Homo sapiens: one gene and its partner. The protein of the gene in region 1 interacts with the protein of each later gene in a biochemical or structural test. Each region holds a gene or a part of one and is shown in the gene's direction. Other genes may lie near its edges.

What was found.
Region 2: the proteins of MPP1 (region 1) and CYSLTR2 interact in a test that uses a peptide from one of them, tested with the Homo sapiens proteins (one large-scale study listed by IntAct).

What each region holds. Positions count from the first base shown.
Region 1 is NC_000023.11:154,791,668-154,795,491, reverse strand, and holds part of MPP1 (55 kDa erythrocyte membrane protein), read left to right. Parts: intron 1-3,206; coding exon 3,207-3,350; intron 3,351-3,644; coding exon 3,645-3,723; intron 3,724-3,824. UniProt on the Homo sapiens protein: Essential regulator of neutrophil polarity. Regulates neutrophil polarization by regulating AKT1 phosphorylation through a mechanism that is independent of PIK3CG activity.
Region 2 is NC_000013.11:48,660,134-48,663,957, forward strand, and holds part of CYSLTR2 (cysteinyl leukotriene receptor 2), read left to right. Parts: intron 1-3,824. UniProt on the Homo sapiens protein: Receptor for cysteinyl leukotrienes. The response is mediated via a G-protein that activates a phosphatidylinositol-calcium second messenger system.

The sequences.
Region 1 (3,824 bases):
AACCTGGCCAGTTTATGGATTTTTAAGCAAATATGAATATAATCATTCTTTCACTGTTTATGATGAAGCTAGTATACCCTTCATCACATTATTATTATTTTTTGCTTAACAATAAATCTTCAAGATCACCCTCAGAACCTCCTTTTCCTACCTACATGGTGTATCCCGGGTATCATAAGTCAATTTTTTAAATATAAGCCTATCTTAGACAATTTTGTTATAACAGCAATGCCATATGACTTGGTGTCATGTGAGTTTTTTGAAGTTCTAGTTGCTAGAGAAGGCAGTTTCTCTTTCTCAGTACTTCCCTCATTTGAGGTCACCTGATAGCGAATACTACTTCAAACCTCACCATGTTTTTTGTTTGTTTGTTTGTTTGTTTGTTTTTCTGAGACAGGGTCTTCCTCTGTTGCCCAGGTTGGAGTGTAGTGGTGTGATCATGGCTCACTGCTGCCTCCAACTCCTGAGCTCAAGCAATCCCCCTGCCTCAGCCTCCTGAGTAGCTGGGACCACAGGCTTGCACCACCACACTCAGCTAATTTTAAAATTTCTTACAGAGGCAGGAGTTTCACCATGTTGCCCAGGCTGGTCTCAAACTCCTGGGCTTAAGCGATCTCCCCACCTTGGCCTCCCAAAGTGCTGGGATTACAGGTGTTAGCCACTGCACCTGGCCCAAACCTCACCATCTTATCAAAGTTTCTACTTAGAAATCAGAGTCCCTTAGAAATGATGTAAGCCTCTACTCCAGACTTCCTTCTCTCTCATCTTCTAGTCCTTTTCTAGGCCTTGGGCAGGCCAGTGGACACTGCTCAGGCATACCATCTATTCCCATCTAGGGACCCTTCTCCTTCCCCACACAGTGAATGGCACACTCCTCACAGTTCTGCCTATTGGGAAGATCTTCCCTCCCTACTGTCTTTGAGGGTCACCTCTGGGTGTGACTGGAATGCAGCTATCCCCTATTTTCAGCAGACCCTTCCATAAGCCCACTTCAGGCCTATTCCTCCTCCTCGTCCTCCTCCTCCTCCTCCAGGTGGCTATATCATTTTTGATTTAATATTTTATCTGGGGTGGGCAGGGAGCATTTTCAGAGGTTTCCATAGTTTTTCCCCATTGTGATTGCTCTTACCCAGATCAGTAAGATGAGGAAAGAACAGCAAAGCAAACTGAGAAGGAGCATTTTAAGGAGAAGAGAGTGATCACCTGTGAGACTGATCCACAGGTGATCTACCATGGAGTGGTGTAGCAGTAGCCATTCATTGCCATTGATGTAGGGTATCCACTTGGATATGCTTCAGTTTATCCATTCTACTGTTGATGGACTTTTGGGCTATTTTCAGGTTTGGGCTTTTAAGAGTAGTGTTGTTCTGGAAAGGGCACACCACTACTTTCCTGGAATTCCTGCCAAAAATGCAAAATCCCAGTCTAATCTTGAAAAAACATCAGATGATAACCCCAAACTGAGAGACATCTACAAAATAACAGGTGTGTACTCTTCAAGAATGTCAAGGTCATGAAAGAAGAAAAAGAAAGGCTGAGGAAATTTTCCAAATTAAGGAAGAGTAAGGAAATGTGAAATGCATGATTGGATTCTGGTCTTAGATTGGATTCTGGGACCAAAAAGTCCTAGGTTGGATTCTGGACTGGGGAAGAAATATATAGCTATAAAGGACATTCTTGAAAGGGTTGGCAGATGACAATATTGTGTCAATGTTAAATTTTCAGTTTTGAAAATGCTCGTTCCTAACATATAGAGACATCTATGGGTAAAGGAGAATGAAGTCTTCAGATTACTCTCAAATGGTTCAAAAATTAAATTTTATAATATTTTTTAAAGAGTACTGGCTGCTCTTGGAATGGCGCCAAAAAGATGAAAGAATTTTATAGTGACACCCATATAGCCACACCTCCTAGATTCTACAGTTAACATGTTGCTGTGTTTGCTTTATCACATTTCTATCCAAAAACTGCCCATCTATCCACCTTCTTTTTCCTGGTATTTCAAAATAAGTTTCAGATATCAGAGCACTTTACCCCTGAAAGCTTCAGCATGCATATCATTGGCTCAAGTTCAGGATTTGTTTATGGTTCTTTTCATCCTGTTATTAAATTGTAAGAGTTCTTTATATGTTCTGGATACAAATCCTTTGTCAGATGTAAATATTGCAAATGTTTATTCTCAGGCTGTGTCATACCTGTCTAGTTTCTTATGTAAGATGTTTGAATTTGATGAAGTCAGTTGTTTGCTTGTATGATGATTGCTCCGTGTCTCGTCTACTAAATCTATGCTTATCTCAGTGGAGTTTTTTGATGAATAGACTTCTTACTTTTAAAGTGTTTGTCTTTTTAGTTTTCATTTTATACTCGGGACCTTTTATGACATTTATCGTGCAGACCATTTTTCCCCGCTGCACTGCAGTGTCACCTGACTATAAATGTGTGGCTCTGTTTTTGCACTCTCTGTTCCATTACATGGGTCGTTTGTCTTTCTTCTTACCACAGTGCCTTAAATTACTTTAGATTTATAATAAAGAGGCCTTGCTGCCTGGTAGAGTAACTCATTTAGCTTTGCTGTCTTTGAGATCAGGGGAAGAAGTCACAGTGGCAATGTATTATTGTTATCACCGCGGTTCGGGGCCCAGTCCTAAGTGCCTAATTCTACAGGTAGAAGTTCTTTGTAGCCTAAGGGGTGATTCATGAGAAACTGATGCTAACCTGAATTACCTTTATTGCTGTGTGACCGAGAGCATCAGGTTGTTCAAGGAAATACAAAGGAGAAGAGAACATGCCAGAAACCCTTGGAGCCTGAGGTGCCGCAGGATTCAGAATCTTTCTAATTTTGTTATATATTATGTAATACCCCAAGCAGGATCCAGGAGAGCACCATGTAAATCAAGGCACATTAATATTTCTGCAGCAACCTAGATAAACATGTCTATTTTATTTATTTTTAGAGACAGGGTCTCACTCTGTTGCCCTGGGACTGTAGCTGGGACTACAGGTGCACACCACCACACTTGGCTGACATGTCTATTAAGTTGGAGAAATAAAGCTTACAAACAGCTTCATGTCAATTCAAATAAGAATGAGGCCAAACTTATGAAATAAGTTTTCAGAGCCTCTTGAATGTTAGAATTGCAGATTGTGGACTGGCTGTGGGCCTTGCTCCTGATTTCATACGTTGCTTTGTTGTTTTGGCTTGGCAGGCTGTATCGCATCCATTGAATACTGTGACCGAGGACATGTACACCAACGGGTCTCCTGCCCCAGGTAGCCCTGCCCAGGTCAAGGGACAGGAGGTGCGGAAAGTGCGACTCATACAGTTTGAGAAGGTCACAGAAGAGCCCATGGTAATCCCCCGTCATATTGTCGCCCACCAGTTACTCTCTGCCCCATGAGTCACTGGGCCAGAAGAGTCAATGCAAGAGGCTGCTCATGGAGTTAGGGAATTGGCCAACCCCAAAATTGTCTTTTCATTCTTATCTCAAATTCCTCCTCAAAGCAGGCTTCATGCCTGTTCTAGTTGAGGACTATCCTGGGTATAAATGGAAAATATTTTCCTGAGAAATTACCGTAAGTTCTTTCTAAAATAACCTCAGAAAGAGCTTAAAATAAAGCTTATTGTGCCGTCGCCTTTATTTCAGGGAATCACGCTGAAGCTGAATGAAAAACAGTCCTGTACGGTGGCCAGAATTCTTCATGGTGGCATGATCCATAGACAAGGTACTCTGTGGGAGCTCTGGGTGGGGTTTGATTCAGGGATTAATAATTTACTCCCTGTTCAGTGGTGTGGGGCATGAAGCTTATAATCCTCCAAACTGGTA
Region 2 (3,824 bases), on another chromosome or scaffold:
TATTAAAGAAGGAAACAAGGAGAATTAGTAAAGACAGAGGTGGGAAGAAGGAGGTCTGAGGTAATGCTGTACATCTTGTTCTTGAGGGCAGAGGTGTCCCCTGGCATGTTTGGATGCCAAACTTCTGCTAGGTTTCAATCCCTGCTACATCCCTGGGGATAAGTTGTTCTCTGGGAGATAACAGTAGATCTGCCAGAAAACTCTTCACCAATGGCCCAAAGTGCTGACTTCATGGTTAAGTGGCATGTGGAAATAAATGGCATTCAGAAAGCAAAGGGTCACCAGCCTGGTGGCCAATGAAGTGACTCATACTTTGGGGGCTCCTTGAGGCACTTTGTGGGTGACCGGGTAGAGGAAAAATCAGTGCAGCAAAATTCTCCAAGGCACTGAGTCCATGAAAACAAGGCCCTGTGAGATTCATTCCCCTCCATCCCACTTCCTCTGGAAGCTCAGAGACCAGCTCCGTTTCACATTCAAAATATGTCACAATTTCAGTTCCTTTTATCTGTGTTTCTGTTTTGATCTCCAAGAACTTAATTCACCTTGACTTTTTGAAAAAAAAATTCTGAAAGCACAAGACCGTTCTTGGAAGGCCAGGAAGGTCTAGAAAGCTTGGCATTTCTGACATGACATTTGGAGCCTGTTACAAATAAACTCTGAGTTGTCAGCTTGGGTCTCAAGAGTAAACTCTCAGTGATACTTCCCTGTTCTGGAGGGCCGTGTTAATTCAGCACTCTGAGGCCTCTGGGATTTTGAGGAACAAATGTGTTGCAGAATCCTCTCTGCACAACTTCAGAGAGCTTATTCTGTCAGCCTTTGCAATAACAACAGCTAACACTTAATATGGCACTTTCTCTGGTCCAGGCCCTGACCTAAGTGCCATTCATGTATTATCTCACTTCATCCTTACAACCCTATGAAGTAAGAACTATTATTAGCATTACCCCTTTCTTTTATTTATTTATTTAAATTAATCTTTTTTTTTAATTTTTCTTTTTTATTGAGACAGTGTCTTGCTCTATTGCCCAGGCTGCTCTTGAATTCCTGGGCTCAAGCGATCTTCCTGCCTCAGCCTCCCAAAGTGCTAGGATTACAGACATGAGCCACTTTGCCTGGCCGCATTACCCCCTTTTACTGATAAGGAGCTGACGCCGAGGGAGATAAAGTCATTTTCCCATGGTCATAGAGGTAGTCCGTGAACAAATCAGGATTTAAATCCTGAGGTTGCTGCTCTGTTACTGCTTCCCTGCAGCTGAGAGCAACACCTGTCATGCTTCTCACCATTTTTTATCATTAAATCATTTCTCAGCCTTGTTTTTATATATTTACTAGTGCCCTGCAAAAATTTTGCCTCCTTAATGCTTGTTCTAGGTCCCAATTCTGAGGTTTAATAATAATAGTTAACATCACTGAGCGCTCACCCTGTATGAGACAACTCACATTTATTATGCCATTTATAGATGGCATAACTGAGGCTCAGAGAAGATAGGTCACTTCTGCAAAATCTCACAGCCAGTAAGTGGCAGATGTGGCCTGCTACCTTACACCAACTGTCTCCTGTGAACACTTCTATTTATTTTAATTTATTTGTCAAATTGACAAATAATAATTGCATATTCATGGGGTATATATTGATGTTTCTATACATGTAATGTATATTGATCAGATCAGGGTAATTAGCATATCCATCATCTCAAATATTTATCATTTCCTTTTGTTGGGATCGTTCAATATCCTCCTTTGAACTAGTTGAAACTATTTAATACATTATTGTTAATTAGAGCCATCTTACAGTGGTATAGAACATTAGAACTTATTCCTCTCATCTAGTGGTAATTTTGTATCCTTTACCAAATCTCTCCCTTTCCCCCACTCTTCCAGGCCTCTGGTTTCCTCTGTTCTACTTTTTACTTCTATGAGATCAACTTTTTTTACTATTCCACATATGAGTGAGAACATATGGTGTTTGACTTTCTGTTTCTGGTTTAGGAAATACAATGGACTTAACATAATGTCCTCCATTTCCACCCTTGTTGCCACAGATGACAAGATTTCATTCCATTTTATGGCTGAATAGTATTCCATTATGTATATATACCACATTTTCTTTATCCATTCATCTGTTGTTGAACACTTAGGTTGATTCCATAACTTGGCTATTGTGAATAGTGCTGCAGTAAACATGTCAGTGCAGACATCTCTTAGGCAAACTGGTTTCAAAGCTTTTGGGCAAGTACCCACAAGTGAGACTGATGGATCATATGGTAATTCTACTTTTAGTTTCTTGAGGAACCTCCATATAGTTCTCCATGGTGGCTATACTACTTTACAGTCCCACCAACAACACATGAGTTCCCTTTACTCCACATCCTTGCCAACATTTGTTTTTTCATCTTTTTGATAATAGCCATCCTAACTGGGGTGAGATGATACCTCATCGTGGTTTTGAGTTGCAAAATCATCACTGATGATTAGTGATGTTGAACATTTTTTCATATACCTGTTGACCATTTGAATGTCTTCTTTGTGAAATGTCTGTTTAAATCATTTACCCATTTTAAAATTGAATATTTTGCTGTTGAGATGTTTGAGTACCTTGTATATTCTGAATATTAGTCACCTGTCAGATTAGTAGCTTGCAAATATTTTCTCAAATTCTGTAGGTTATCTTTTCACTCTGTTGATTGCTTCCTTTGCTGTGCAGAAACTTTCTAGTTTGATAATCCCATTTGTTTATTTTTGCTTTTGTTGCCTGTGCTTTTGAGGTTTTATTCACAAAATCATTTCCCAGACCAGTGTTCTGAAATGTGTGTCCCATGTTTCCTTCTAGTAGTTTTTATCATTTTGGGTCTTATATTTAAGTCTTTGATCCATTTTGAGTTAAATTTTGTAGAGTGAGAGGTTTGGGCCTAGTTTCATTCTTCTATAGACATCCAGTTTGCCCAGAACCATTTATTCAGGAGACTGTCTTTTCCCCAATGAGTATTCTTGGCACCTTTGTCAAAAATCAGTTTGCTGTAGATATTTGGATTAATTTCTGGATTCTCTATTCTGTTCCATTGGCCTATGTGTCTGCTTTTGTTAGTAACATGCTATTTTGGTTACTATAACTCTGTAGTGTATTTTGAGGTTTGGTGGTGTGATACTTCCAGCTTTGTTCTTTTTGCTCAGGTTTGCTTTAGCTATTTGGGTTCTTTTGTGGCTCCATACAAAGTTTAGAACTTTTTTCTATTTATGTGAAGAATGTCATGGGTATTTTGATAGGAATTGCATTGAATCTGTAGGTTGCTTTGAATAGTGTTGTCATTTTGACAATATTAGTTCTCCTCCATGAGCATGGGTTGTCTTTCCATTTGTTTGTATCCTCTTCCATTTATTTCATCAGTGTCTTGTAGTTTTCCTTGTAGAGGTCTTTCACCTCCTTGGTTACATTTCTTCCTAAGGTTGTTTTTTGTTTGTTTGTAGCTGTTGTAATGGGATTGCCCTCTTGATATTTTTTTTCCAGCTAGTTCATTGTTTGTGTAGAAAACACTACTGATGTTTGTATATTAATTTTGTTTCCTGCAACTTTATTGAATGATTTATTAGTTCTAAGAGTTTTTGGTAGAGTCTTTCTATATATGAGATTATCATCTGTAAACAGGAACAATTTGACTTCTTTCTCTTGAATATGAATGCCATTTATTTATTTCTCTTGCCTAATGACTCTGACTAGGATTTCCAGTGCTATATTGAATAAGAGTGGTGAGAGTAAGCATCATTGTCTGTCCCTGTTCTTGGAAGAAAAACTTCCAACTTTTTCTAATTTAGTAAGATGTTTGCTG